2 separate regions of the Homo sapiens genome follow, and region 2 is linked to region 1. Evidence: fine-mapped expression QTL. A gene starts in region 1. The other region holds a variant in brackets. All regions are shown on one strand. Distances are between the middles of the regions.

What was found. PIP is the estimated chance that this variant, and not a neighbour inherited with it, causes the effect.
Region 2: its variant is fine-mapped to the expression of SAMD12 in atrial appendage (GTEx, PIP 0.91).

What each region holds. Positions count from the first base shown.
Region 1 is chr8:118,613,882-118,630,255 of GRCh38, reverse strand. It overlaps SAMD12 (sterile alpha motif domain containing 12), which reads left to right and starts at 8,293. Exons shown (of 4, transcript NM_207506.3): 1 at 8,293-8,452. The coding sequence starts at 8,440. It overlaps SAMD12-AS1 (SAMD12 antisense RNA 1), which reads right to left and starts at 9,255. Exons shown (of 5, transcript NR_038210.1): 1 at 9,070-9,255; 2 at 8,601-8,721. RefSeq lists a silencer at 7,951-8,100 and enhancers at 8,201-8,400, 9,011-9,220, 9,251-9,300.
Region 2 is chr8:118,579,239-118,595,612 of GRCh38, reverse strand. SAMD12 (sterile alpha motif domain containing 12) reads left to right here. Exons shown (of 4, transcript NM_207506.3): 2 at 14,720-14,898. Among named protein-coding and RNA genes, the nearest start is that of SAMD12-AS1, 34 kb to the left of the region's middle. The variant G/A (reference allele first, on the strand shown) is at 9,780.

The DNA of each region.
Region 1 (16,374 bases):
GGTTTCCCTTTCAGCAGATGATGGACAGGCTCAGTGCCTACTGAAGCCCTGGTAATAAATAATGCTTTAGCAGCTATCTGTGTATCTCTTCATCCAGTCAAGTTGACATCACAAATGAACTATCACAGTCACTAAATTTGGGGATAATTTGTTGGATAGATAAATAACTTGCCCTCAAAAAGACCTGGTGAGGGATATTGTCCATTTTATAGATGAGAAAACCAAGGCCAGAGATGTTAATCCTTTTGCTTTAGTTCACCCTGCTGGTTTGTAAAGAGGCAGATTTTGAACTCTGATCTATGTTTCCAGGGTCCAGGGTATTTCTACTGTATCACTGTGTGGAATCAATTAATATATCCAGCACATGTAAGGCAGCATCTATAAGAAACCACAGCTTCGGGGAGGCTTTTTGTGTGTCTGTTATTGTCTTTTATTTTATTTATTTATTTATTTATTTATTTATTTATTTATTTATTTATTTTTTGAGACAGAGTCTTACTCTGTCACCCAGGCTGGAGGGGAGTAGTGTGATCTCGGCTCACTGCAACCTCTGCCTCCTGGTTCAAGCAATTACCCTGCCTCAGCTTCCCAAGTAGCTGGGACTACAGGCATGTGCCACCATGCCTGGCTATTTTTTTGTATTTTAGTAGAGATGGGGTTTCACCATGTTGGTCAAGATGGTCTCGATCTCCTGACCTCATGATCTGCCCACCTTGGCCTCCCAAAGTGCTGGGATTACAGGTGTGAGCCACCATGCCTGGCCTATTGTTGTTGTTTTTTTGAGACAAGCCCAGAGGAAGAGAATAAGGAACCTCTAAGCATCCATAGAAGGGTTCTACAAGGAAGGCAGAGATGACCTTAACAAATACACCACCACATCACCGAAGATACCTAACAGATACTACTCTATTAGCATTTAAAAGTGTGGGGCAAAAATTAGCCAATAATTTTCCCCAGCCCCACAAGGTTCATATTTCCAGCTTTTAGGATCCCTGAATAAAACTAGACCTTGCAGAGATACCTTTTGAATGCCACATTTTTCACTAAAAGTTATCACAGGCTAGAAAAGGCCAGTCAAAGGTGAAACCCAGGGCTGCACCATGCTAATACTTGCCTTATCTCACAAGGCACATCTTAGGTGTGCTGTGTCCTTTCTCTCCCAGCTGCGATCTAAATTATCTCCTAGGTCCCATTTTTCTTCTACTTCTTTGAGTTTTCAGACATTAGGATTGAGCCCTAGATCATGACTTCAGGTTTATGAGGACAGTCATCTGTCATCAGCACCTGCAGAGCCTTTTGTCTTTCTCTGACTGCATGAATTCCTCAGACTCTTACTTTCTGACAACTGATGGACTTTTCTCATCTCTAACCACAAAAGCCCAACTCCATTCTTTCTTTGTGCAACACCACAACATGTGGGGTTTTTATTCTCCCACAGGGAGAACAAGAAAGCATATGGCCTCCTAAAAAGAAAAGGTTCTTTATGTTTTTGGTCCAGCCTCTTTCCTTTATAAATTTCCCAGTCTCAGGTATGTCTTTATTAGCAGCATGAGAATGAACTAATACACCTTGACTTTTGGATTGGCCCTATGACTTGATTCAACACATGATGTAAGAGAAGTGAAAGTGCTGCAGTTCTGAGACAGGGCTTAAAAGCCTTGCATATTTCCTTTTTCTCTCTTGCTCCTCTGCCGTTAGCTGCTGCCCCTTTAGCCTGAGGCAGAGTTCCCCAGCTTACTCAAAAACCTGCAGCGAGGAGCAGAGCTGCCCCAGCCTCCTTGACTGAAAGCTCAGCCACCAAGCCAAACTGAGCCCAGTGGAACAGAAATCTCTCCCCACCACATCCTCTAAAAACAAAAACAAAAATCAAACCACCAATGAAGAACCTTGGCCTGAACCTGGGTTCTAGACATTGTTCTGCTATGATGTGATCCTGGCAAACTTTTTTGGTTTTCTGCCTCAACTGTGAAATGATAGGACTTAGAGTAACTTGCCTCTAAGTCCTTTCTGAACAGATTCTAGGTTAGAAAAAAAAAGCCTACTTCTAAGAGTATAAAACATTAACACAAACACAAACAAAATACTAACCTGCAGTTTAATTGGGAAAAATAAACACATTTATGATTAGGTAGTTTACTCATGTGCTCCTTCAGTCAGACAGTACTTACAGATACATAATACATGTATTAAGTATGTATTGTTGGGCCAGATACAGTGCTAGTGGTTGGAAGATCAAAGGGGAGCAAAATCAGAGTCCATTCTTAATCCGATGGAATTAGTGGGGATACTGACACTATTTAAATGAAAATAATAAATATATTCCTACAAACTGATATGAGTGTTGTGGAGAAAACTAACCCAGAATGGGAGCCTAAGAAAAACTTTGCTAGGGCTTGTAGGCTTTAACCAAAGAGTAAAGGGATGCAATCAAATGACTTCAAATTGGAGTGAGATGATTAGATTTGGGTCATACCATTCTGTTTGCTGGTGGAGAGAAGCCACACTGGGGAAGAATTGTATGCAGATAGACTAATTAGTAAACTACTGAAATTAGTAGTGGTCTTAGTGAGAGAAAACCGTAGCTTAGACTTGAAGAGTACTGAAGATGAATATCTTCTAGCTAAAATCTTCCATTAAGATCACTGTACTTTAAGCTCATTCAAGAAAAGTTTCACTCTTAGAGAGTTCTTTTGCCCAAATAAGGTGGGATTTTGTTGAAATTCCCGATATCAAATGAGATTCTTCCTGTCAGAGTGCATTTCAATATATTTTTGGAAGCCAATAGGGTAAGTGGCACTTTTACACCTGATGAGAAAGTACATTGAGATGGAATGAAAAAAGTACTGAATGCAGAAGTCTCAAGTGTTGAATTCAGGCTCTGTCTGGGTGTATAAATTTGGGCTAATCATCCATCCTTGCCCAGCCTCTGTTTCATACCTATAAAATGAAGTAAATACTATCCACTGACAGCCATTGTAAAGATAAAATGCAATAATGTATGTGAAGGCTCACTGTACCCTATATAATGATTAAAAATATAAAGTTTATTAGGTAATTATTAACAGAGGAACAGAAGGGAAGGGAAAGGACTGGTCAAATAACTACAGTAAGCGGTCAGCTTTAGCATCTCTGCCTAGTAAAGATTTCTGGTCATTTTGGAAGTAGTAGTAAAAGGGAGCCCATCACACCTTAAGTTTTTAAACATCTGGCATAGAATAGTTCAGTTGTGAAAATAAGTTGCATCTCTTCTAGTGTTCTCTTGTGCTGATGTGTACCAATGACAAGTAATTCCAGATGACCATTCCTATGCTTTTACACACAGTTTACAATTTCCCCTGGTTGGGGAAGTAGGGGCAACTCTGCTCAGAAGAGGTGCTGCAAATTTATTAGGTTGGTGCAAAAGTAATGGCAGTTTTTACCATTAAAAAAAAAAATGGCAAAAACTGCAATTATTTTTACACCAACCTAATACTTCAGGGTTGGAAATCCAGAACACAGAAAGTTTGTATGCAGTCAGCCACTAGAGCCTACAATAATCCCACACTCTTTTCTATCAACAAAACCTATCCAAAAAGGGACAAGTGTCCAGGACACTGCTCTTCCATGGCACAGCCCTGTTTTCTTGCCTGTCAGAGGAGGCTCTGCATTGATCAAGTTAAGTTCATTCAGTGGCTTAACTACAAGTCGGACTGGGCAGACTTACTCCACACTTGGCAAATATCCTGAGGCCCTTGCTACTGCTTAACTGAATTATATCCATGTTCTTTGGGAATGGCCTCTCAGGCTTCCATGGATGATCAAAAGAGCAAACACTTATTGGGCATCCATTATGTGCCAGGACAGCGCACAACACTATAGATACTCTCTCAGTCACTGCTGAGCCCCAAACTGTGAGCTAGGTAATGTATACATTACACAATTAATAGCATTACAATACATGTGGGAAAACCAAGGCACAGAAATGTCAAAGAACTTTGCTAATAACCAACATCGAGTAAATGAGAGTCAGGATTACAATCTAGTTCTGTATGTCTACGAAACTTGAGTACTGAAGCCAAATATTCAGATAACCAGTTAATATAAAGGTAGACAGATTCTGCTCAAATTTTGAAGACATAATTTAAGTCTGATTTTGAAAGTATAGTTTAGACGAACGATGGTATAGAATATCACCAACTTATCAACAAACAGATAACACACAATGCGATTTAATTATGCACAATGTGATTTAAGCAAAAACAACTAGGCTTTTGCTTAAATCATGTTCCCTGAAATATGCTTACTTCCTCCAATGGAAGCCTGATATAACTTGAATGGTTGGCACTTTATTCATGACTCAAGGATTAGAGTTAGTATTTTTTATCTTAATTACAAAAAAATTATTTTTTTCCTCTCAGTTCCTCCTGTCAAAAATTTTACTTTTTAGGGTTTGAATCCTTTTGGTTAGGTTTAGAAGATCTCCCTGAACAGAATAGAAACATAATCTATTTACTTTTTGAGATTTATGAATGTTTTCTGTAGAGGCTTGTGAATATAGCAACCGAGTTAGAACAATAAATACAGTAAAGTACTTATATGTACTATTTTAAATCTTAGAATCCAGTGAAATCTGTAGCCTCATCTCAATATTTCTTTTTTTATTTAATTCACTATAAGGTAATGGGCTTTTCCTTCCCTTTCTGTGCTCTCTGATATATTCAGAAATTTTTGAATCATTCTAAATATCACAATTTCTGATATTAAAATATTTTAAACCCTTCATTTTATTAGTAATGACAATTCCTATTTGGCCAAGTGCTTATGAATTCAGATTTGTGATCACGTAATCAGTATTGAAATCTAGATGGAGTAACATCACAGAGTTCTACACTTAGGTAGACCTCAATCCCCTTGCTACAATTCATGTTTTGGAGACATGGGGCAAATTACTTAAATTCACTGAGCTTCAATTTCCTCATCTGGAAAATAGTGATATCTGACAATATTGTAGTGATTAAAGGAGATGATGTATGTCAAGATGCTTAGACAGAGCTTGGCACTTGTAATTTCCCAACAAATGCTACTTATAACAAGGATAAAAAAATAGTAGTAATAAATTATCTATTGAGTACTTACTATGTAACCACAATTATGACCAAGAATCTGGAAGATATGAAGCATAAGACTCAGTTCCAGCACTCGAAGTGCTTATATACTATAAGGAACAAACAATAGCATCATAATGAACACAGAATTTGGCTTATGAGAGGTATGGGATGAGGTCTGGACTTTGCCCCTTGCTAAAATTGGGTATATCTGTTAGGAACTGTACTTGGCTGCTGATAAAAAAGACCAAAAATAAGTCATGATTGCAGTCTGTGAAAGATACTAAAGCAGAAGCTAAGCTGTGCCCAAATTACTGAGCCACAGAAACTGAAGTAATACATGGGTATTGTTGTAAACCACTAAATATTGGGATAATTTGTTAACAGCAATCGATTAATACATGTGGCTCATCATGTTGTTGTATACAATTGTAATTCCTTCATTTGCATTACTTTATAGGAGGGTTTGGAAAGCTTTTTTTCTGCAAAGGATCAGGTAGGAAATATTTGAGGCTTTGTAGGACAAGAGGCAAAATTGAGGATATTATGTAAGTATGTCTTTATAATTTCCAGGCTTTGCAAATTATACTTTTTTTGTTTTTTTTCCAACCATTTAAAAATGTAAAAATCACACCTAGCTGGTGAGTTATAAGAAATAAATGGTGAGCCATATTTGGCTCATTGGTCTTAGTTTGTTGACCCCTGCTATATGGAATTATTTGGTTATACCACAGTTCATCTCTCCAATCTGTGTTGATAAATATTTGAGTTGTTTTCCATTTGGGAACATTAAAATAATGCAGCCACAAACATTCTTGCACATGTCTTTTGGAGAACATCTGTATGCATATTTGTTTGGTGTAAACCTAGGAGTAGAACTTCTGGGTCACAGGATAAGCATATATTCAGCTGAATATTTCAGATGGTTTTCCAAAGTGGTTTTGTGAATTTGCACACCACCAGCAATATATAAATCTTTATTGCTTCACAATCTTGCCAACGGTTGGTATTTTGTGTCTTTATCTTTCAAACATTCTAGAGATAAATGTAATTTTTTTTTAGTACTTCCCAGGTGATTCTAATGTTCAGCCAGAATTGAAAACCTCTGCGCAACTATTGTTTATCCCTTATTAGGCAGAACCACATGAAATTGTTCTATTTGTAGGTTTTAAAAATGGTCAAACATTGGCTATTTCATATGGTAGAAACTAACATCTCCTTCACATTTTATTTATACTAAAAATAAAACTCGTCTAGAATGCACATCACTGGGAAAAATATTAAAGATGAGCTAAGATGAAGTTTTAAAATTAACCACAGATTTCAATGACTTTTATATTTTTATATCACCCAGATATTTAAAAGCTTGGAACCAGACCAATGGTTTTCACCCTCAATGAAGACTGGAATCACCTGTGGGTTTTTAAAACCTGAGTGCCTCTACCCAAACCCCCATAAGCTCTGATTCTGTGAGACTAAGATAAAAGCTTAGGAATATATATTTGTAGAAGGCTGATGCACAGCCAAGGTTGAGAACCATTGATACTACCTGTCCTATGGCTTTCTTTCACATTCATTCAATCTCAGAAAATACTTAACACTTTGGTGATTTTATATACATAAAGTAGTGAAGCACCTGGATTTCAGTTCTTTCCAGAGTTTAGAATGCTTGGCTGTGTATTAGGTCGGAAAATTCTTTTTCCCATGGAAATTATGTCTCACTGAATGGGTCTCTCTCTACTGTACCTAAAAGAGAGGCTTAGGTTTGACTTGTACACAGCTCCATGGACTCAGAATTAAAGTATCAACAAGAGCATTTAATGGTTACACGCAGGTATTTTTTAAAGTACCTATACACATATTATTATTATATATTACCCAGTAGGGGAACTAAGCATGTAATTAGTGACCAGAACAACAGGTGTGCATGTATACACTGAGAAACGAAATTGTTTTGAAAAACATTTTTTTTTTTTTGCTGATGACCAAGACACACAAAAATGTCTAAGTAGTCATCATGGGAAGAATCCGATTTTTGTACTTCCTCATTTTACAGAGATTAACATTATATATGAGTGACTGGGTGGATGTGGTACCAAATACATTTGTAAACTGAAGGCCTTTAAAAGTCAATCCAGTCTTGAGCCAGATTTATTCCCGAGGCTATTCCCTTACCCCTTCCAGCCACAACTGTATCCGTATTTTCACACGCAGGAAAAAATGTTTAGAAACTTAATTTTTACGAGCTGTCGAATTGTATTGCTATCCACGTGATTCCCATTATCATGTCTGCTTATAGCATCCCCAGCACCTACAGCTAGGACATAGGTTCAGAAGTTGAAGGAACCTGATTCTCAGGCACTGTTAATTATTAGGCCCTATCACAGGCTGTCAACAGGCTCCAAGTCTAGGCAAATTGAAAGCCTCCTATCCTGGAAGCCAGACAGGCTTTCATCTGACCTCCTCCGGTGCAATCCTGGCTCCCAGACTTTGTTCCTAACAACCCCTTGGGGACGTTGCCTATTGGGGTTTAAGCCACTCCTCCTCCCCTACACCCCCATGCCAAGTATTTAGCCACCTGAACCACCCTGTAGGATAAGACAACTGTATCAACCGTCGGAATTCCCCCACAAAACCCATACATCTCAGGGTGCGAAGGAACAAGTTTCAACCTCACCCTGGGCAGCGTTCTCTGGCCCAGGTGGAGAACCACACAGGAGGACAGTGGTCCTGCTCTCCCTACTAAATGGTGGTTCAGGAGGCCAGGGGGCGGGGCGGTACCGGCGGCAGAGGCCCACGGACGAGCTCGCAGGAGCTCATCACACAGCTGACCGTCACCTGCCCACCTCACCACACCTGCTAGGTGCCAAACCCCTTGTAATGGACAGGGAAGGGCTCAATCACGGGTCCCTACTCTTAGCAGCGAACCTATCTCAGCGCACGGCCTCCTGGGAGATGTAGTCCAGACCGCTTCCCGGGAACCCCCCCCCCCTCCCCCCCCGCCCCGCCACAACCAGGCATCCCTGGTCCCCTCACAACTTCCCCAGGAGAGATTGCTCGGCCTGGCCAGCTGAAGCTGGAGTTGCTCTCCAAGTGTCGGGGCCAGGCGGCACTCCGCGGAGGAGTCGGGGTGCTCTCCCCAGTCCGAGCGAAGGGAGGGAACTACACTTCCCAGGACGCCCTGCGCGCGCCGAGCCGGGAGCCGGCTGCCTCGCTTTGCGTGACCGCGGCAGGTTGGTCCTGGAGCAGATAAGCGCAGAATATTTAGGCGAAAGCGAGAGGAAGGGGGGAGCGCGGGGCAGGAGGAGTACCTCGGCCAAGAAAATTATGCATGCGTTAGGGAAGCTCTGAGAGAATGGCTGTGGAAGGTAAGGGACGCTTGGGGCATTTTTAAGCTCCCTCTTAACCCGCGCACCCCAAGGCACACATCCCCGATGAAGCTTGGCGATCGTGGGGAGGCGAGGAAAGGGGGTGGCGGAGAGCGGGCCCCTTCCTCCTCCACCTCTTGGCACTCACCTGCGCCGCCAAGGCCAGTAGGCGCTTTAATTCAGTTGCTTTGGAGAGACGTGAAGGGTAGGTGCGTAGGACTTTGAGGTAGGAGGTGTGGAGACGAGTGTCCCTGATGCGAAACGATATCCTGGAAATGGGGGGAAAGCCGGAGGATCCGGCATGAGGTTTTGGCCCCGAGATGCCCTTTTTCCCTGCCCCCTCCCTCCGGAGCAGGCTGGGTGGCCCCGGGGCTGGGGATGCTTGGTTGGCCCCCCTCACGTGGGAGAGGTCCCCAGCCCAGGTGCGTCATCCGGAAGCTTGGACTGGGATTGGGTCGAGGGCCCTTCGTCCTATGCACCCAGCAGCGGCGGCCGCAGATGTACCCAGAGGGTAGAGGTGTCCCTACACCTGTCTCTGCTTATACAGCCAGCGCCCCGGGCTTAGCAAAGTTTACAGACATGAAATGTAATCAGCCAGGGAAAAGAAGTGCAACAACCTCTTCGATTTGGGTGAATCCTTTTCTTTGAAGATCACTTTCTTCTTACAGTCTTGAGCTTCGGCTTTGCAGTTTTGACCGTAAAGTCCTGCCTCCCTTGAACTTCCTGGTTGAAAGCAGGGTCAGGCTGTTCGTGAGGGATCCTGAGTTTTTCATTTCAGGTTATCTTACCTTGGAACACAAACTTCCTTGTTTAGGTAGTTTCTGAAGAAGAAAAAAAAACTGTGGACCGGAAGGGTTTGTGATGTCACATTAGAGGTCAAGCTGTGCCTGAATGATGAAATGATTGTGGGACGAAATGGGAGCCTACATTCACCTGCAGAATTTTGGTTTCTGAGTGCAGTCAGGTCAGAGGGCGTACTGAAGTAGGAAGAGGAGGGCTTGCCTGCCAGCTGCTTCAGGCGCCTTGCCAAGGGGAAATCAGCCTATTCCTTGTAGGCTAGAGACGAGAAGGCCACGAGGCTGGCTTGCTGCTCCCTCTCCTCCCTGCCCCAGGAGAAAGAAATTGAACTAATCTGACTCTTGCTCCCCTTATAACGACTGTCTTAACAACCTGAAGTAGCAACAACCCAGCTCCTATACTCAGCACCCATAAACTCGGGAAACTCTTGCCTTTGGGCTATCTCAGGTTCAGAGATCCACAGCCAGCCACTTCCAGCTTTCCTAACTTTATTAACAAAAATGAAATCCTCTCTCTCTCTTACAATCAAGATTTTTCTAGGTTTTCTTTTCTGTGCAAATGTACCAGTAGGGTGAGAATCTTTTTTTTTTTTTTTTTTTTTTTTTTGCATCGTTATGCTTGATAGTCAAGACTTCAGATGCCAAAGAACAAAACAAAAGCCGAGATAAAGTTCATCTTGAGCTTGAGACCAAGGATATGTTGACCTACTCCTTAAGTGTCCGTTCTATGTCACCCATCAGGTGACACTGATTATGATCTCTCGTCTTCACCACTCCTGTGTCCCCAAGACAGGGACACTCCTCTTTGTTGCTAGTCCACACTGTTCTCGAAAACAATTTCTTGTTCCCTGTAAGAAGTATAAATTTGTCTTATTTCTTGCGTGATGGGTGATTACACCAGTGAAGCCAGACTTTACAAAAACAAGAACTTAGGAAGGAAGTACATGTGGACTATGGAGAGTTTATTTTCTAGTGACTTGGTTAAAGTACCTGTCTAGTAAACAGGAGATCCTGAGTTTGAATCACAATGAGGTCTCAAAGAATGAAGGAAGTATTTTAAACTTTAACTTCAAATATGATTCCTATCTTTGGTCTTTGCAAAGATATCAGCCTGGACCAGTCCCTTCCTGGTTACTCCTACTTGGTCTTTCAAGCCTTTGGGAAAATGTCACTTCCTCTGGGAAACTGTCCCAGCCCTCCTTTTTCTTCTGCCTTCTCAGCACTCTTTCCAGTCTATGGGAAGTGCCTCCTGCTCACATTTATCTTAATACTTATCATACTTAATCTGCCTCTTACTAGACTCTAACCCCCTTGGGGGTTAGACTTGGACTTTATATTCCTAGCTCATAGCACAGTACTTTGCCCATAATAGGTACTCAATGCTCATGAATTGCATGGCAAATATATTCATGGAGGTTTTGTAACTGGTTCTATAAGGGTACATGGGGCTTTCTTGGAAGCCTAAATGTGATACAATAAGGGATTTCTGACAGATTTGAGGATGGGAGATTTTTTTTTTTTTTTTTTTGAGACAGAGTCTTGCTCTGTCGCCCAGGCTAGAGTACAGTGGCGCGGTCTCAGCTCACTGCAAGCTCCGCCTCCCAGGTTCACGCCATTCTCCTGCCTCAGCCTCCCAAGTAGCTGGGACTATAGGCACCCGCCACCATGCCTGGCTAATTTTTTTGGTATTTTTAGTAGAGACGGAGTTTCACCATGTTAGCCAGGATGGTCTCGATCTCCTGACCTCGTGATCTGCCCACCTCGAAGTGCCCTTCTCTTCAGTCTTTTGTCTTGATGCCCAAAAAATCTTTTAGAACAGTTTACCTCTACTGCTGGGTGACATTGTCCCTGGACACATTTGGGATATGTAGGAACTGCTGCTGGGGGCTGCTGTTGGTATTTTGTGCCCATGGCCACAGATAATAAATGTCCTGCAGCGCATGGCCATCCCGTATAACGAGGCCAAGCCATGGCCAAGTAATGATCAGTTTACCCAACTTATTGAGAAATGCTGCTTCAGAGAATAAGGAGTTTTGCCAGAGGAACTGGAATAGAAAATACAGTTCGAATTGCTTAACATTCTAAGCTTTAGTCTCCACATCTGGAAAAAATGGGCTCACTACTGCTTTCCTCCTGGGAACATTGTGAGGATTTTTTTTTTTTTTTTTGAGACGGAGTCTTGCTCTGTCGCCCAGGCTGGAATGCAGTGGCGCGATCTCGGCTCACTGCAAGCTCCGCCTCCCGGGTTCACGCCATTTTCCTGCCTCAGCCTCCCGAGTAGCTGGGCTACAGGTGCCTGCTACCACGCCCGGCTGATTTTTTTGTACTTTTAGTAGAGACAGAGTTTCACCATGTTAGCCAGGATGGTCTCCATCTCCTAACCTCGTGATCCGCCCGCCTCGGCCTCCCAAAGTGCTGGGATTACAGGAGTGAGCCACCGTGCCCTGCTCATTGTGAGGATTAAATAAAGGAGAGGGCTTCTAGAAGGGTGTCTGGAACCTGCATCCTAAGTAAATATCACTTGTACTCTCATCCCTTCTCTTAGGAAAAGCTATACTATTTGGCATGTGTTTTATATCCTGAATTTTCACTTATTCATGCCAGCCAGTTTTTCTAATTAGTAACAAATTAGAAGGTTTTTTACTATGTGTAACTTTTTCTTAAGTAAACTTGAATTTGTAAAAGTGTTACTAGCAAGTAGTTCACTCATTCACTTTGCTGAACCTGCAGCCGTGTGTTTAAGATGAAAAAGAGGTGCCCTTTGTTTATTGTTTTGTAACTACCCTGTGTTATGTTTTCTTCTTAGTTTATTTGCAACATCCTATTTATGTCTCCTAGTCTGCTTGTGACCCATGCTTTGCATTTATGGGCAGCTTACAGGTATGCTTTCCCGCCACAGAACAGGGTACGACCTTATGGTCTGCATTTGGATTAGGATTATACTGGCATACATTGCCTTTTTTTAAAAAAAAAAAAAACAAAAACAATGTCTTGTGAAATAATTTAGCAGGACTGGGGACTAGGACCTCTTGGAAGGAGGTAGCAGGGACCCCAAACTAATCCATTCTCTATGGACAGACTGTGTATAGACGGTTAAACCTATTGATGTTTTCTAACAGAAATGGGTTGCAATATTATTCAGGGAGAAGAAAAATGTGGATTCATTGGGGACAGTGTCGTATTCATCTTTGTATTCATCTCTGTATTCCAGGGATGGCGCCTGGCACTTAGGAGGCCCACAGTCATTGTTTCATGAATGACATATAAATGCACGAGTCTCCAGAGCTAGAGAAGGATTTTTTTTTTACCCCTCATCCCCAATTCCTTTTCTTGCTTTGTCCTCAGATATTTATGAAAAAAATAGGGAGGATGGACATTGTACATGGTAATTTCTATTCCAGGTCTAACAGAATAGCACCTCTCATGTGGCAGAAAAATGATTTCCAATATTCAGCACTCACCTCTCTCCCCAAGAAAAACATGTCAAATGCAAGACTGTGTGCTCTTAATGACATCTATATTAAGGGATCTGAATTTTCCATCATAAATGAACATGGTAGCTTACCAAATATCTTCTGATAAGTCATTCAGTGCTCAGGTTCTATGTTTTTTCTCCTGTAGAAGAGTGAAGAAACTACACATCACCAAAATATTGTAAGGCTAAGTAATAATAACGGTGACTGGGAAAATGGGAAATGAGATAGCGTCAAACGTTTGTGACAAATAGAAGCAGTCACGGTAAACACTGGGCTTTGCAGCCCCATAAATGATGACTTTGTACCCAACTTGAACTCAGAACTGCATCACAGAGAGTAAAAGGAGTCACATGGGAGATAAAAACATCATTTTTATCACAAGCTTATAGTGGGTTATTTTTTTCTGACTTTGGGTTGGAGGGTAAGTGGGCTTGCTAATATTGTATGCAGCAGTGAACTTACCCGTCATAGGGATGCCTCCCTCTATGCTAGTGGTCCTTAACCTTTTTGGCACCAGGGATCAGATTCATGGAAGACAGTTTTTCCATGGGGGATGGTTTTGGGATGAAACTGTTCCACCTCAGATCATCAGGCATTAGATTCTCATAAGGCATGTGCAACCTAGATCTCTCACATGTGCAGTTCACAGTAGGGTTTGCACTCCTCTGAGAATCTAATGCCTCTGTTGATCTGACAGGAGGTAGAGCTTGGGTGGTAATGCTTGCTTGCTCACTGCTCACATCCTGCTGTGCGGTGTGGTTCCTAATAGGCCACGGACTGATACCAGTTCACAACCCAGGGGTTGGGGACCCCTGCTCTATACCACTGGCAGCTGGAGAGCAGAGAGAACATGGGCTCCTGCAGCAGGCAGGTGGGACCCAAAGGAAGAGGTGGGGAACCTATGCTTTGTGCCTTTTCACAGACTTGCTCATCAGAGAGTTGATTTCTCCTCTCCTGAGGAGGACCCAGAGGGTAAAGAGGGAGACCAGAAGTGTAATTCTGATGGATTTCCCTTCATAGAACACAAGAAGCTCTGTCCTGCCTCTGTGTGATTCTCTTGGTGCTAGCTCACCTATGCTTTCCTAACTACCTTTTCTTGTTGGGAACATCATTATGAATGTACCTCTTCTACTGGTGGTACTTTCTACGGCAAGGACTATGTCTCATGTCTCATCCTTGAAGCTTGAATGAATGAATGGAGACAAATGAAGGAATGGGTGGGTTTATGACTGCTTTTGATTCCCACAGTAACTCCCATACACATTTAATGAGAACTTCCAACTGTGTTCCTCTACAGAGCAGATGTCATGAAAGCAGTGAGACGATGGACAAGTTTCCCTCATAGGTACTTATCCCTGCAGCAGCTTCATTGTGTGATTGTTAAACTAATTACTCCCTGATTCTCTCCCATTCACTTATTCCTGAGGATCTTTTTTTCTTATTTTTATTATGTTCTCTATACCACCAGATCTGACTTTCCTGCACCAGAGTTTCTATTGATCACTTTGTTTTAGGAAGGAGAATGACGGCTAGAAGTTCGTCATTGAAAATTCCTTCCAGTGACTGTGTGAACAAGAATGGGGCCTCCAACCTAGTTTGAAACTTGCTGTGGCAGCAGTTCCTGCCACCCCCATCTCTTTTGTAGCCCTCTTAGCTAGTTCGGACAGGGTTTCAGTCTAATTGTACTGTTGTATTTCCTAGCCCAGCCCTTCCTAATTCCTTTTATCCCACCCTTTCTTTCTCATCTGCCTTGCTGTTTTCTCACGCCTGAATGAAGAAACAAGCGCTGGTGCTGAGAAGCAGAAACTGGGAAACCTTTGCTGGTGTAGCTGTGTTCTGTAATGCTGAGTCACAGTGGATGACGTGGTGACATATTACAAGGGTAGGGGGAGCTGGGGATCTGAAGCCCATGCTTGAACTCTGGCGAGTGAGTGTCAGCTGTTGTGCATTTAATTATGAGAAAGGGGATATTGCAAATGCTCATTCACAGGCATTCAAGCAGATGGTGCCTTTCTGTTGATAAGCAGTAGAGTAGCACCCATGTACAAGGAACTCTACGAGATGTGGTGGGGAGTGTAGTAAGAAAGGGAGCTTAGCCCACTCTGACCCCTGCCAGTCCCGGCCCTCCCCTGCAGCCTCCACTGGGGGAAGGAGACAAGAGAAGCAGATTAGACTGAATGATATAAGTGCTAAATAAAAGTGCAAGCACCATGACGTGGGAGGTCTGAGAACAAATGGAGCATTTAGTTCTGAGCTGGGTGGGGATAGCCTAACGAAAGGGGTAGCATTGAGTGAGCTTTTGAGTAGGATTTTGATGGGTGGGAATCGGGGAAAGGGCACAAAACTGAGTAGTGTATGTATAATGCATGCTTCTTAATGGATTTCCCCCATGTCCCAGGGATGTGGTAGTTTAGCCCTTTATAGGAAGGAAAACGAATGGGGAGCCTCCTAACTCATGTCTGGTAAAATCCTTTTCCTAAGGGCTCTATTATCTGCCTGGCCAAACCTGCAGCATTCCCCACAGTCCAGTTGGATCTTGCATATGGTCCTTTTGAAACCACAAGAGCAAGCGTGGAAAGCTGCTCTCTTGTAAATCAAGTTGATTCCTCCCCAGTTTTCTGAAGTGGAATGTAGCAGCACCACCCGCTCTGAGCTGGCTCATGAGAGCAAACTTGGCTATATTTAGTCTGATTTTTCTAAAGTGTGGGTGCAAGAATCTGCTTGTACAGCTTGCCTCCCGCGTGAAGAGCAGGACAGGACAGCAGCTGTTGGGTGACAGCGGTGGCCCACCTCACTGCCTTCAGCAGCCTCCTTCCCAGAGTGCTGGGGCTATTGGCAAGTTTTGTTCCTTTGCTCCTCCCTGCTACCCTCCCTTGCTGCCGCAGAAGGTATTTGTGTTCTATTCGGCAAATCCTGACTCTCAAGTGATTTGACAGATGTTTGTGGATTGGCTATGGGGTGTGGCTCTCAGAGCTACAGCTGCCCTTGAGACCTGGGGTACAGAATGGGCTCAGGCCTGCTCATGGCTTTTCACTGCCTCCACAGTGCAGGACTCTCTCCTAGGGGATCATAGCAGTCACAGTGTTCTTAAATGTGGAAGATCTGCAACCAGGCTAGATGTGAACCCCAGCTCCGCACAGGACCTGCTGAGTGCCTGGGTAATTCACTCAACAGCTCTGAGACTCCTTTGCCTGTCTATCAAATGAGAATATTAATGGTAATGACCTCATAGGCATGTTGAGAAGGTTAAATTAGTATAAGGGAAGCTCTTAAGACCTGGTTTGTGGTAGGTGCTCAGTAAACACTGAGTAAGATGTTAGACAAGATGATAGTGATGATGCTGTCTGTTTCACCTTGTCTTCCTGCCATACTTATGAAAGCATCTAAGACATTTTTATAGCATTTTTATAGCCCCATGATATTACAGTCTGGCATAATAGTGTGTGCTCAATGAGGGAATGTAGGTTATCAGAGTTGGAAGAACACCAACAAAGTGTAATTGATAAAATACAAGGCATCCTCAGCTTAAAATGTATTATTTGGTGTATTCATGATCTGACTCTGTGCAGTCATGAGGCAACAGAGGGAAGTAAATGTTATGATTATATTCACTAAAGACTCATCACTTACATAATTTTTCTCTACCACA
Region 2 (16,374 bases), 35 kb after region 1:
CTTTTGCTATCAGCAGTAGCCAAGGAGGCAAATGCTTGGATTGATAGACTTTCTCTGGTCTGAGCTTTGTGTACTTGATTTTTTTTCCCTTCTCCCTGATCTTAAGGAGAGACTTAGATTATAACAGTTGGTGTTTACAATGTTTTAATGGCTGTCATATTGAGAACTGACTGGAAGCATCTTTAGAAATAATTTACACCACCATAAAATGAATTGCTAATCTTTCCGAGTGGATTCTTTAGCCTTTTTTGTTTGTTTTTTAATATATCAGCCAATGAGATCTAGACCAATGAGAATACTGGTAAAATATTTTAGAAGCATTGTCTGATTTGAAAAGCTAAGTAGGAATATAAATCCTTCCCTAAATATGCAGTCACACTGTCTGCCATTTGCTTGATGTTTTGTTTCTTCACTTGTTTCTTAGAGCAATGTGCATGTATGTGATTAAGACGTCCATAGGATGCACATCCACCAGTGCTGGGCTGTAGGATGCATGGGTGGGAACATGAGGGATATGGGATATGTGTTGATTTGAACCAGCAGTCATTATGTATCTTCTCTGATGGCCCCGGTATCTAAAGGGATGTAGGTAATGGTGTTGATGAACAACGACATTATTTAGGGAATGTCTAACTTTATGGTAGTGACTTGAAAAAGTGGAAATACACTGCCCTGAGTAGTGCAGATAAACACTTTAGGAGATTAAGGAATACAGGTATATGTTGGAATAGGAGAGAAGGTTTTAATGAGACAAATTGCATCACGAAGGATGCTTGTATATCAACACAGGAATATTGCCAGCCTGTGTTTATTCATTTGTATTACTGAAACCACATGGGCTAAGTTTCTCCCTGCTTTAAACATTTATTGGCTTTCCACCTGCTTAGTGAAAAAAAAATTCAGATGTCTTATTCTAATACCCAAGGCTCCATGCACTCATTGTAATGGGTCCTGTATCATTTTTTTCTCGTAGTCTTTCCTGATTTTCTTGGCTTGGAGGTAAACGTTTCCTTTTTCAATTTTGCAGCCTCTTATTATTACTTTCTCCACAGCTTTTATTTCCACCTCCCCTTACCACTATATCATCTACAACGTAACTATTGGCTAGCCTATTTTTTGGTCAGTTGCATAGAAGTACTCAAACCTTTAGCTTTCGTAGTTTTCAAAATAGGGGACACAGAGTTTCTATAGGTTTTTTTTCTTTTGCTAACATTAAAACTCATGTGCACAGATACATACACACTTAATGTATCTTATCTAATTTCATAAAATGGGGTTAACACCAAAAAATGCAGACAAGACAGTAGAATAATCAAGAACAGACCTTCACACTGAAAACATTTGGCCAATGGAAAGCTTACAGAGCTGTTTTTTTTCTTCATTTTGCTGAGGACCACCGAGAGCTTCCTCACATATTTATCTCCTCTTTAGGAAGACATTTGGGAGCCACTATTTTAGTAAACTGTGAGCTTTACCAGAGCTGATTTATCTCTGAATCCCTGTTCATCTCTTTCTCCCTCAGAGATAATCTGGGGTCTCTAAAAGCTTATAACAAGAAAATAACTGTGATTTGTGACATAGAAGCAATCAGTGTGGGGGACAGGTTATTCAAAGATCTGACAGTTGTCTAAAATAACTAAATAGGAAGTCGCTTTTATAAAACTGTCTAGAATGTGTATGAAAGTCAGAACAGCAGACAGGTTATGAAGGCTGTTTATTAAAGAACTACATTTTTAGAATAGTGGCATTATGTTTATTTTTTTGTAATTCTGGAAGTGTAGATGTGGTTACTTAGATCATTACAAACAATTACACAACTATAGAAAAGAAAATAATTTTCCGACGTAATTTCTGACCTCAAATTCTACTTTTCTCTGTTCTTTTTAAAACTAACATTTACAGAAAAAAACACATTGACTTTAACATTGGGTTCTCCCAGTGTTAAAGGACACTGATAATTTTTCAAACTTGCACTATTCAATAGGACTTTATGTGATAATCGAAATATTTAACAATCTGCACTGTCCGTTATGCTGTACACAGCCACATGTGGCTACAGAAATGTGGCTAGTGCAACTGAGGAACTAAATTTTAAATTAAAAAAACATAATTTAAAATAGTGACCACTGGCTCCTGTATTGGACAGTGTAATTTCAAAAGATGGACCAAGGTACATTCAGAAGTATTGAGCTGTTATTAGTAATACCACCTCTGATGGCATCTTGTCAGTTTTCTTGGTAAATTCAAGATATTTGAAAAGGAACTTGTTTTTTTTAAGGAGTCTTTAGCAACTCGTATACTTATCAATGGCTCCATTGAACTTTGAACTACTTTTAGCCTTTGGACCACTGCAAGTTTTTAAAGTGTTAATTCTCAATTCATGAATTAAGCTCTGTCCATTTCCTTCATCATTATATCTCTCATTTTAGAGAATGTGATTTTTGATTACAAAAAATATATATATGTTATATGCACATATACACATGCATATATAGACATTTGTGAAGATCAAGTGCAACAAGGGATGGAGTTTGTTAAACTTGAATGTTCCTTTAGTCTGAATGTTACTATGAATAGACAGAGTAAGCAAACAAAATTGCCTGCTAATATTATCTTGCCCCACCCTCCCTGAGAAGAGAAATGCTCATGTTCATTAAGTCAAACCAGAACCTCTCATGGCTTTTACATATTTCTGTGGTTTGATAGATACTTCTGTTTCTGCCTGGAATATTCTTTTTTGTTTTTATTTCCAGAACAGAACCTTCAAGAGAATTTTATCTTTTTCTTCCCTGAAGCCTGTGTCTGACCTTTGTAACCTTCTACCTTCCCTAACAATACTAATCACCTGTTTCTGTTAGTGGAGCTGTGTGTACAAGTATATGCAGATGTATGTACAAATGATCTAGATATTTGACTTTTGAAGAAATCAATATCATTAAAATAATATTAATAACAGTAAAGGAAGTAATAATTACAGCAGTGGTTACTGTTTGCTGAGCACTTTCTATGTACCACTTTCTATGTATTGACTAAACACTTTAAATATGCTTTAATTATTCTAAAATATTATAAAGAAGTTATCATTATTCTAATCTTATAGGTAAAACAACACTAACCTAAAGGGAAGTAACTTGACCAAGGCCATACAGCTAGTCAGTGGGGACAGCCAGATTTGACTCCAAAGCCCATTATTTACCTACTAAACAATAATTAAAATGCAGAGGAAAAAAAAATCTTATTCCCCAGAGTAACATGGGAACTATGTGGTATCAGTCTGAATTTCATTTCATTTCCCATTTGCCATTTTTTTTCCTCTATTTGCTTTTCTTTTTTTTGGCATCTCGGCTCACCACAACCTCTGCCTCCCAGGTTCAAGTGATTCTCCTGCCTCAGCCTCCCAAGTAGCTCATATTACAGGCATGCACCACCATGCCCAGCTAATTTTGTATTTTTAGTAGAGACAGGGTTTCTCCATGTTGGTCAGGCTGGTCTCGAACTCCCGACCTCAGGTGATCCACCCACCTTGGCCTCCCAAAGTGCTGTGATTATAGGCATGAGCCACTGCACCCAGCCTTCTATTTGCCATTTTTATGGTGGCCTTAAACATGTTGCTTAGCATCTCTTAGTCTTCCCCTTTTTTTAATAGGTATCACCACCTTCATGTTAGAGGATGAAAAGTCCTTTGAATATGTTAATTCTATACTTTTTCCTTCTTCCCTCCCAAAATACCCAACTGTCATATGTAAAGACTTCCTAAATGATTAGGGTCACCTTTTTTTTCATTAGCTTGGTTTCACAGAGAATGCAGTCAGCTTGTCAGTGGAAACTATGTTATGAGGTGGAGATATTTGCTTTTATTTCTTATTTTTAACCTCATTTCCCAATTTGCTCCCAGGTTTTTTTTTATGTATTTGAAAAGCTGTTCTTTTTTCCTTCTTGTCTTCCTACTGAATTATACTTTAGTTTGTTTTTTCCAGGTAGGTTGCACTTTTTATGTCTATACTGTATTTATCCTTTAAAAGTGCATGGTACTATTTTGTTTATTTAACTGTTATTAAAATTGTTAGCATGTAATATTTGTCTACTGTGATGTAGGAGGGCAATGGGTAAAAGTGGAGGATTTATGTTCATTGAACACATGGTAGGTGTCAAGAATTTTATATGTGTTATTTCTCTTTATCAACACAATAATAATGTGAGTGTAAAAAATAGGGTAATATTAGTATTGCCATTTTACAGAAAAGAGATGATATAACTTGCCCATGCTTGAAAATATATTGTAAGAAAATGGTAGAGCTTGGATTTCAACTAATGTGTGTTGGCCGAGAATAGAGTTAGGAATGAAAACATGTAAATCAAAAGTCATTTATAAACGCTTTGAAAAATAAAATATATCTAGTGCTTGTATTTAATTCTGTTTTGTTGTATTTTTGAGATTAATTTATATACCATAAAAGTACATATTTTAAGTGTTAAGTTCGATGAGTTTTGATGCTTGTATCATGTAACCAAAAGCAAGGTGGAGAACATTTCTGTTCTCCAAGTGCCCTCTACCCTTTCCAATTATCCTTTGTTTCCTCCATTCTGCTCTTGAGCCTATCCACCTGAGCTTTTTATTTTGTTTATTATGTATTTCAGTTATAACATTTCCATTTGGTTATTCTTCATGTCTTATATTTCTCTGCAGAGACTTTAGTTCTTGGAAAAGCTTATTTTTTCCATTTGTGTCAAGTGTAATTGCTTAGTGAAGCATTTTTAGTATAGCTGCTTTAAAATTTTTCTCAGATAGTTCTGATGTCTCTGTCATCTGGATGTTGGTGTCTATGGATTGTCTTTTGTCTTTCAGTTTGGTATCTTCCTGGTTATGAGTGATTTTCTATTGAAACCTGGATATTTACATGTTGTGTTATGAGACTCTAGATTTTATTTAAACCTTTTATTTCAGCTAGCTTTTTAAAATGCCAGTCTGGCCAGGGAAAAGAGGAGATACCACTTACTTACTGCCAGGTAGAGTTATAAATCCAGGTTCCCCGCTCAATCTCAGTTGATACCTGAAAGGTAGGACTTCTTCCTTATGGCTGGGTAATAGTGAAAGTCCTGTCTACCAGACTTCCTCTGACACAATCGCAGGAAGGAAGGCTCACCTCTCATAAACTGGTAGAGGTGAAAATCCAGCCTTGCCATATCATCTCAGCTGACATTTTGGAGATGAGGAGGTACCCTCTTTACCAATTGACAGAGATGGAAACCTGGACTCCCTACTTGGCCTTCTATGGCATTCTCCTGGGAGTATTGGGGTACCTAAGTGCAGCCTGGTGAGGGTGTGAGTCTAGGCTTTACAATCAGCCTTTACTGATGTGGTGGTTGGGTCACATTTCTTTTCTGTAATGTTTGAGTAAAGCAGTTATTATCTACATGTTTCCTACCTTGCTAGGCTGTCTCTTTCCTGGTCCTTTGGTTACAGAGAGCAAGCTCTTGTATATTATTTTTTTTCTGTGCCCATAGCTCTTCCCAAGTTGCAGGTTTCTTAGTTCTAAGTCTGGGATATACGAGGCAAAAGGAAGCTGAGAGAACTCACCACCAGATTATTCAAGGTCCTTCAAGGTCTTTAGATTGTCTTCCTTCTCTTTACCATTCAGTTGTCTTATGTTTGTCTCATATATAATGTCCATCATTTTTAACTTTACTAAGTGGGATGAATGGAGAAAAGTATGTCTATTTCTTCTTCCCTGAAGGATGCAAGAGGAACTACTTTATTTAAAAAAATAAAGAGTAGATGATATGTAGTAAAGGAAAGTAATATTTCATAAAAACGTGGTTCAATTCATATACATAAAGATGATTGGTCATGGATTCACAATGTGAAATCTCTTTCTGTAGTATCATAGTTAAAAATATTTTTAAAGTCACCAGTGTAGACCACTTATCAATCTCTCAAAGTGATACCTGAATCCCTTGTCTAAAGCATCATAGAACTTCTGCATGTGTCTGCCCTTGTATTCTCCTCATGAATGAGAAGAGTTAATATTCATGCCTTGGACATCTTCTAAAGTCTGTCCCCACTTTACTGATTCTGCAATACCTAAGTTAAGCATTATTTTAATTTCCATTGTTTTAGGTTGTCTATGTATCAAGTGTAGGACAAGTGAATATTTGATGTGGTGATTAAACTTAAGTAGTCTTTGGAAAACTAGATTCCATTATAGCGAACTGTTTTTACAAAGATGAAATTGTTTCTGTAGACAAGTAAACCAGAGTGAGTGAGCATCGTGGGGCCCAGAGAAGACCATGTCCTTACACTGCTGCATGTGGTTTGAACGTCTGGCTGTGCTGAACAGTCATGTAGGTCCAGCTTGGGCAGCCACATCATCATTGTCAGGCTACTGTGGGCAGATTTGTGAGGACAATAGCACGAGTTTTGTGGGTTCAGTCTTTCAGTTTCCATTTAGTTTCTTCCCCTGTCTTTCTCATTGATGTAATAACTTCTTTTTTTCCAGTCTCTTCTTGCATGGAATAGGGGAGCCATCTATTATTGGCCACTTAGACTTGCTGGGGGTGGACATGTTCAGCTTTTAATGCTGCTGAATTACCCTTCTGGACATTTATATTTTACCCCTGTTTTTGATAGTGGGAAAAAGACCTCTATAGAAATTTTAAGCTTCAGCAAGTATATGTAATATCACATTTAGCTGACCAAGGAGAAATTTGGAAATCATATTCTGTCTCCTCATTGCCTGACCCAAGTGATAAAATTCAGCATAATTTAGCTCATTTAAATTAGCTGGGAGTGGGGAAGTACAGAATAAGTCAGAGGCTAGTCCTGCAAAGACCCATAAGTTCTTCCTTGATGTTGCTAGAGTAAAGGAGGCTGGGGTTATCAGGTCCCAGTGCCCTTCAGGTTATGGTTATACTCTACCCTAGAGCAAGGGCCAGCAAACTTTTTCTGCAAAGAGCCAGCCAGTAAATATTTCAGTCTTTGCAGGCCACGTGGTCTGTGTCACAGTTACTCACTGCTGCCATTGTAGCACAAAAGCAGACATGAACACTATATAGATAAATGAGCATGCCTCATTTATTATTTTCCAGTAACACTTTATGGACATTGAACTTTGAATTTCATGTAATTCCCATGTGTCATAAAATGTTTTTTTCCAATCACTTTAAAATGTAAAAACTATTTTGGGGTCACAAACCACATGAAAACAAACAGCAGGATGGATTTGGTCAATGGGCCATAGTTTGCTGACCCCTGTCCTAGAAGATATCTGCTGGGCAGTTTCCTTTGCCCAAGGAGATGTTGTGCTCCCTTTCTATTAGCTAAACCAAGCCTGTGTTCCTGAGACATACTTTCTGGTACAGTTGTTGTATTTTTATGTCAACACATTAATGACCAGACACACAGGAACACATTCCCATCCCCATTCATTGATGCAAAAGTTTTCATGAATGATCTGGGCACTTTTCTGGGTACCTTAGGACCCCAGCTAAGCAAGAAAGTTTCATCCTCAGGTCTTCAGAGTGTCATCTGGATTGATTACCTCTGATGTCAGAGTTTACTGATAATAACATGTATTCCTAAGGTATATTCCTAAGGTATATCTGTTATTCATACTATACTTATTCAGCTTTCTAAGTCATAATAGGAGCTGTGAAACCCAGACCAGAACATTTTACTAGGATTTCTGTTTTCTCTTTTAAAAAGAAGGGCTAAACAATCCTATGTTATTGGTTAAAATGGAAATGTGTCATTTTGCAGGGGTTCATCTGAAAGTTGTAGAAGACACGACTAACCATGGCTTAATAAGCAGAGAATTACTTTTCTCACAGACTCTCAAGTCCAGAGGAGAATAATGAAGAACAAAGTTCGAGTAGCCCAATGATGTCAGAGCCAATGTGACTATTATTCTCTTGACTTTTTTTCATCTTTGTAGCCCTGTGGTCACAGCATGTACTGTAGCAGTTCTAGATATCACATATGCCTTTAAGGCAGAGACAAAGGGGAAGAGTGATGTTAAGATCTTTCCTCTTTTGTCAGTTCCAGAACTGTTTGTTTCCCATCAAACTTCTGCTTATGTGCCCTAGGGAGGAATCTGTCATCAACCTCACTTGTAGCTGCAAGGGAAGCTGTGAAATTTGCTATTGGCGTTGTAGCCATACTTCAGTAGGTGGCAAAAATGAGAGTGTTGAGAATGTGTAGCCCATCAGAAGTGTCTGCTACAAAGAGTTACAGACTTTTTGTGATGTTCACATTACTTCTTGAGGGTAGTCTCTGCTGAATTCGAATCCAGAATACAATAAATGAAGCACCTATAATAATTAATATAATGAATTAAACATATTGGAGAGTGTTATGTGTATATTATATTAGGGAAGTGTTAAAGAAGGACCATCTCCTTCAGGAACTTTAGCTAGAAGCAAGACATAAACATGAAATTTGAAATAACCTATCTCAATTCTAATAACTAATGGTGGGGATTGGAGTATATTTGTTTTTAAGGTCACTGATTCATTTAGCAACATTTATTGAGGGTTGAGTATGTACAACTGTTTAGGCTTTGCAGGTGCAAAGATGAATAAGATAGTCTCTGCTTTGCAGATGGCAGTCAAATAAATCAGTAGTTTCAGGATAGCTTTATGGTTTTGTGATTTAACATTTTTGGTGAATTACACAATTAGATTGGAAGCAACTTTTATTTGCTTTTTTGAAAAATATATGTTACGCATCAGTACCGAATGGCAGTGAGTAGGATTCAATCAGTATCTTTCCATCATATCTATGCTCAGTCTATAAACAATGATTGAGCACCTACTGTAAGGTAGTTATGTGGCTACACACTACATTTGTAAAGCTCAGCAAGAAGTAGTCACTTCTTCTGGGGGCTCCTAGTCATAGATTTAGCAGACCTGTCAATAAATATTTGCAACACATGGTACATACACACACATACAGATCATATAAGAAAAAGAGGTGGCTGGGCAATGTAGCTGATGCTTGTGTTCCCAGGAATTTGGGAGGTCGAGGTGGGCAGGTCGCTTGAGCCCAGGAGTCTAAGACCAGCCTGGGCAACATGGCAGAACCCTGCCTCTACAAATAATACAAAAATTAGCTGGGTGTGGTGGTGCACACCTGTAGTCACAGCTACTTGGGTGGCTGAGGTGGAAGGAACACTTGAGCCTGCGAGGTTGAGACTGCAGTGAGCCATGATCACACCACTGCACTCCGGCCTGGGCAACAGAGCAAAACACTGTCTCAAAAAAAAAAAAAAAAGAAAGAAAAAGAGGAGAAGTGTTTTTATTGCTTAAGAGGATATACTGGGTGCAAGACTAGTTAAAGCTTTACAGTAGAAAAAAGAGAAAAATTAATATTTCCTGAAGCAGTTATCTATGCAAATAAGGGAAAGGAAGAGCATATGATGTAAAAGGTCAGTTCTGTCAAGGTAGAGAAGCACAACACATTTCAGGGCACTGCTTGCAGTTTCTATGTGGGGGTTCCTTGGTTGGGGAGCCAGCTCATTCTGAGGGGCAACTGGGAGTGTTTTCACAGTGTCTCTATTCAAGGCAAAACTCAGAATAGAGGAACATTAAAATTTAATAAGTCTCCATCCCTTGTTTCATGACAGAGAGTGGTGTGGGTGGAGATTGGAAGAACTGGAAGTTGGGTGGCTTCCTGGAGACTAAGATGCACTTGTTCTTGGGAATGACAGCAGATGCCAATGCACCCCTCAACTCTTCTAGCATCACTGTGAGCAGAGAAAACAAGGCCTGGCACTTCATTCCAG[G/A]TAGCCTGTTACTGTCACCTAAATCACATGAGAATGGCATCCCTCAGCCACTAAGCCTTGGAGAGCCCAGGCTCATTTCCAGCAATCAGCAATCCAAGCCCTGCTTCTGCTGATTAGGACAAGACCTGTTTTGGAGAACATTTCCTTTCCAGGAAAATTCTGAAGTAACCTCATACTTTTGAGCTATAATTTTTACCATTTTATTAAAAAATAAAATAACATTCTAGATGAAAATCACGATGATATTATTCATAAATAAACTCTCAAACCTTTGAATAAAAATATCTTTGGAACCTCTCTTTCCATTTATGGAGGTATTAGGGAAGTTAAAATGAGAGGGAGTGGGGTTTTTAAGTTTTTATTTTTTTATTGTGACAAAATATACATTAAATTCATCATTTTAATCATTTTTAATTATATGGTTCAGTGGCATTAGGCACATTCACATTATTGTATAACCATCATCACCATCCATCTCCAGAGAGTTTTCATCATCCCAAAGTGAAACACTATACCCATAACTTACCAATAACTTCCCATTTTCTCTCCCACAGCCCATGTGTAGCCATTGTTCTATTTTCTTTCTCTGTAGATTTGATTAACTCATATAAGTGAATCGTCCAATAGTTGTCCATTTTTGTCTGGCATATTTCACTTTAGCATAATGTCTTCAAGGTTCATGCATGTTGTAGTATGGATGAGAATGCCATTCCTTTTATAGGCGCAAAATATTTCATTATATGTATCACATTGTGTTTATCCATTCATGCATCCACAGGCATTTGGTTTATGCCTGTTTGACTGTTATGAATAATGCTGCTATGTACATGAGCATACAAATATCTTGAGTTCCTGCTTTCAGTTTGTGTGTGTGTGTTTGTGTGTGTGTGTGTGTGTGTGTGTGTGTGTGTATACCTACAAGTTGAATTGTTGGATTAAATGACAATTCTGTGTTTAATTTTTTGAGGAACCACCATACTGTTTCCCACAGGGGGTGTATCACTTGACATTCCCACCAGCAATGCACCTGGTTTTCAATTTTCTGGGGAAGTAGGTTTTTACACATGAAAAAAACATGGTGCCTTCAAAAGGGCATTTCAAAACAATGCTAAAATATGTGCATTTGCAGTGAAACATTTCTCTCTTAAATTTTTTTAAGAGCAATGTTTGTGAAATTCATTTTGGTTTTTAACTCTTCATTTTGAAGAATTCAATATTAATGACATTCAAATTAAGTAAAAGTGACAGCAGCAGCACTTCCCATAAAGACCACAAGCTGCCTGCGGTGTCAGTTCAATGACTAGGAATCCGTCAGGCACAGGAGTGGTGGTGAAGATTAGGGAAACGAGAAGAGGGTCTCGAAGCCGACCAGTGAGCTGCCAAGCCCATTAAATTAAGTAAATAACTTTAGGGAAAACAAGAAAGGGCAGTGATGAACACAAAAAAGAGAAATCAAAAGGGGACACCTTTGACACAAGCAAAGAGATGGAGGTCATGCATTGTAAGAGGCCATTGGAGAGTTGTTTGATTTGTAAATATTAGGGACATGAAATTTCAGGGAAAACAAAGCAAAGTCTATCAAAAATGGTTTTAAATAAATAATTCTAAGTACAAAAACCTAAATCAACTACTGGGGAGTTTGCAGTGGAGGAAGGAACAGCTATGGAGGATTAAAATATTTGTGTGAAAAATAAGCCTACGTGTGTGGAAAGTCAAAAAACTGTATTCTGCCTCCTGTTTATAGATACCTTACATTTTGAATGCCAAGTATTTACTAGCAGAGAAAAGCTTTCTTCTGATTTAAGGCATGATTGCGTAAAGGAAGGGAATTGCTGGTTCATTCTGCAGCTGAACAAGTGTTTCCTTAATGTCTCTTATGTGCCAGGTCCTGGACTCAGGAATGGAAGTCATGGAGATGAAAAACAGATGGTACCTGCCTTCCAGGAGCTTACAGTTGTGCTGGGCAAGGCAGACAGATCAATTACATGGACATTCTTAGTACTGTGAGGAAAATGAAGCACCAGGGGACTGTGCATGAGGGAGCATAGGGAATGGTTTCTTGCTGTGGTAGCCAGAGACTCCTAAAAGGCTTTCTGAAGAAGAGGTCTGAGCTGACATGAGGTGAATAGGACTTAGCCTCCCAAAGAGCAGGAGATAGGATTAGGTTGGAGTAGGACCAGCATTTCTAGGTGGTGGGACCACCGTGATCAGAGGTGAAGGAAGTATAAGAGTCAAATTTGGTGGGGAGGTGATAGGGGAAGAGAATAGGAGGTCTACCAGCAGTTCAGTGGTATTCCTAGGTCATGAATTTCAAGGTAGGAAGCAGCAGAGGATAAAGCTAGACAGAAAGATCAAAGCTACACATTTTTCTTTTCTTCATTAATGTCTGAATCCATCCCATGCCAATCCCCCATCTCCCTACACAAGCACACCTTTTAAAAATAATCACAACTTTGATGTATTTAATTGAATATTCATTGTAAGTAGGCCAGTCTTTGGAGATGGAGAAGCTGATTGATAATAACAGTAATTAGCTTCAAGCTCTCAGAGGCTTTGGCTACTAAGTTCTCTTTCCAGCACTGCCTAAAGTGGGCATTGTTGTTGGTTCCCCAGCATCCATTCTGCTACAGCCCTGTTGAGTAGCAGCAGTGTGGTTTGGGGAATTGACCTGAGCTGGTCAGTTGGTTTAAGGGTAATCCTATTTCCACTGCCAGCATGTTAGTTCAGTAATAGGCATGTAATTCACTCCTGGCCAATGAGAAAAGAGAATAAAATTTGAAGGAGGTTTGGGAGAAAAAGCCATAGTCAACCAAGCCCTTTCTGCTTCAAGATGAAAACTAAAGCTTGTAGTCTAGATGCTACAAAGGGACCCAGGTTCAGGATAAAGTCGGTGCTATGGATAATAGAATGGAGAAAGAAAAAAAAAAAAGCACAGTGCTTGATGAAACTACCGAGATGCAAATCAGCTAATTCTGAACTTGTGCCATCACTGGACTTCTTGTTCTGTCAGCTAATAATTTTCCATACCATTTAATCTAGTTTGGATTTTTCCATGTGTAATATGAAATCGTGTATACTAAATGGGCCATGATTTTTGTGACTTTTCTGTACACACCAGTATAGTATGCCCTTTTGTGAACCTAACCCATTTGAGCCTCATTTTCCTTATCTGTGAAATGAACATAGTTATGTCTCAGAGTTTTTCATGAAGATCATTTGAGATTCAGAACAAAGCCCAAAAGGGAGGTATGAACTAATACATGTTAAGTGCCCAGAGTGTACCACTAAATAGGAAGCTTAGAGACTAGGAGAAGAGAAATTCATAAATAATGTCCACATAAAGTGGTAGAAATAAGATCACGTGCATTTGGACCTTTGTGCAATCAGTTTGTTTTTTTAAAGAAATATCATTGAATATTTGAGCAGTATGTTAGGTGTAGAGCTGTTGGATTTGCTGATAGATGAAAGGAAAGTGATGGATCATAGAGTGATGTTAAGGATGTCTCATCAGTTTCTGTGTAACTTGCGAAGACTGAAACAGGCAAATTGTTTCTGCTGCAGTTTTACTTGTCTGACATTCATAAGAAAGGTGTGTCTAGGCTGCAGTTAATATTTGGGAGTCACCAGAATGTTGATTGGGAACATAGGAATAGATGATATCTATTAAGGAGGGAGTGGATAGTGGGAGGAAAACACCTCACTTCTTTTGGGAAGCCTGCCTCATCCCTCAGGTCTAAAGTACTCATCAGAATCCTGGCAAAGATGAGGCAAAGAGGAAACTATGGCCTAAATGGAGTGCCGAATAGAGAGTTGGACTTTTTGAGTCACGGAAGCTGGCTGGAGGGGAAGAATGCTGAGAAAGGGGAAAGCCTAAAGATGTTGGGTAAAAGATTATTGATGAAGTGGAGACCTGGGGAAGATGGGGGTATTAAGTATCTGGCCTTAACTTCTCTGTGAATAAAGGAAAGGGGATGAGGATAGGAGTTTACCTGAATTTGAAGAGTTGGGGTAACAGGGAAATGAAATAATTTACTACCAGAGAAGTCAAAACACACATACCTGCCATCTGCACACAGACATACATGGTGGTTTATGTAGTGGAATGCATGGATCTTACAACATTCATTGCTATTTATTTGATAATACAGGGTACATAGGGGGGCTCAGTAAGCGTTTGTTAGATGAATAAATATCCCCAGAAAATCAGCTTTAGGTTTTATTTGTGGAATATCTATGTTACAGGGCATGGAGAGAGTAAGATGCAAAAAACTGGAAGCCACTGGGCTTGATGCCCTTGAGCCCTCCACTCTGGCTTTTTTTTCTTTGCCATGTAGAAGTGACAGTTCTGTTTGAAAATCACCAGTCCTTTTGTTTGCCTCCTTTATTACATTGTGAGTTCTTTGAAGGTAACATCTGTCATATGTAAATCCATGTTTCCAGGATCTAACCCAGGGATGGCACATAGTAAGTGCTTAAGAAATATTGCTTAGATGAATGCAAGAGAGTGGACTTGAGTGGATGCCTAAATAATAAAGAAGGTCCAGAAGAAGAGAGGGTGAGCACTTTTCAGATGGAGGTAGAGATACAAACTAAACTGCAGGGTTGAAATAATTGCATGATTGCGTGTGTGGGAAGCAGTAACAACGTTGCCTGATTTGGTATTCTCATCTGTAACATTTGGATTTGTAAGTTGCTGAAAGTCAAACAACTTGGAATTGAGGGCTTCTGGATTTGTACCTAAATCTTGCTGATTTCCAAGCTCAAGGTTTCCCACTATACCGTGCTCCCTCCTCACCATATTATTTATCGTAGTAATCACACCACCTCTCGACTCATAGATGCCTCGTTTTTTTCCTACTTAGGCTTGATGAATATTTTCTGTCATGGACACCTTCTTTATGTGGTTTGTTTTCTGAGTTCTATTTGTTGCTTTTTCCTAGCTCTCCACTGTGGTTTGAATCCACGGGGTATTGATCACCCTGCCCATGCTGAAGGTATTAAACTGCAAATTGAAGGTGAAGGTGTGGAATCTCAATCCATTAAAAATAAAAATTTCCAGAAGGTGCCTGACCAGAAAGGAACTCCCAAGCGACTGCAGGCAGAAGCTGAGACGGCTAAGGTGCGTAATATTCCAGTTAATTACGGAGATTTGAAAGCTGCAGCCTTTATATGTTGTAGTCCAGCTACAGAGAAGAGCTGATAGTGCTTTCACTAATTACCATTGTATCTGTGGTCAAATGAGCACTGTATCTTGCGGATAAATAATTATAAATGAAAATATTAACTGTATTCCCTTTGGAATAAAATTGAAACACGTTTGTGGCCAGTCTCATAGTGTGAGGCTCTGAGGTTATAGAGAAGAATGCCCTGGACTTGAAGCTAAAAGATTCACCTGCCAGGCTCAGACTTACCACTCTATGGTGTTGGGAAAGTCATGTGACTTTCTGAGTTGCAGATTCTTCATCTACACAAGGGAATCATAAAATGACTTCTCTCATCAGGTTGAGCAGATCAAACGATTGTATGCTTGTGGAAGCATTTTATAAAAGCCCCAGTACTGCATGAGTATGAGAGGCTTGTGCTTACAGGTATTGTTAATTAGTAATAGCTGATATTTTATTAAATATGCATGTATCTCCCAGGTACTGTTTGAAGGACTCTTGATCTATTGACTTATTGTGTCCCTGTAACAATCTTGTGAGGTAGACAATAGTAAATAGAACCCTAAGTAGTGAAAGAGAAAATTATTTTATTCTGCTGTAGTATGCTTAGTTCTTTTCAGTCTTTAACCTAAACATAGGTAACAGAGAACTGACAAAATAGGCATTGGTGAAGAAGTACAGAAACTTGGATTCTGTGGGGTAGGTAATTTTTTAGTAAGGACAGCCTCTTCTAAAGGCTCCCTACAATGGGACTGGCACTATCTGGATATTTGTCTGAAATCAGTGCAGATGTTCATGTTGGGGGCACAGTGTTGTTGAAGATACTCATATTAGTTTTCCTCTTGGACACTGAGGAAATTAATCTTCATATAGTTTTGTTTCTCCCTTTGTGTATTCCCTGCAAGACAATTTCCTTTCAAATGTTGGTTGAGCAAATGAATGTATGCATGCCTTGGAAAGCAAATGTTGTAAGCACCTAAGAAAAATCTTAAGGAAAAAGGTCACCTTACTGTTGTACAATAACCACCTCCCTTCTCCTCCAAATAATGTCTTCCAAAATCAGATGTGAATTTTTTGCTTTATGTACAGTTTGGAATAATTACTGTTATTGCTTCTCTTCTTTAGTGTGGATAATTAAAAATTGTTGACATTAAGTATGTGTGTGTGGTAGGGAATGGGGAATGATTACCAAGATATATATTGCAGGCATTTTACGCTAGACATTTTAGCTAAGAGAAATGGCAACTCATAGGATATTTACTGGCTGATGATCAATGAAGTTTGGTTTGTGAACAACATTGGAAATGAGTGAACCCTGTTAAGAAAGCTAAACCTGATCAATACATGGGCATCTTGAAAGAGCCAGGAAAAAACGCCTTAAGGGTCCTCTTTAGGAAGATAAACAGACTTTCTATGAGTGAGATATTTTCCAA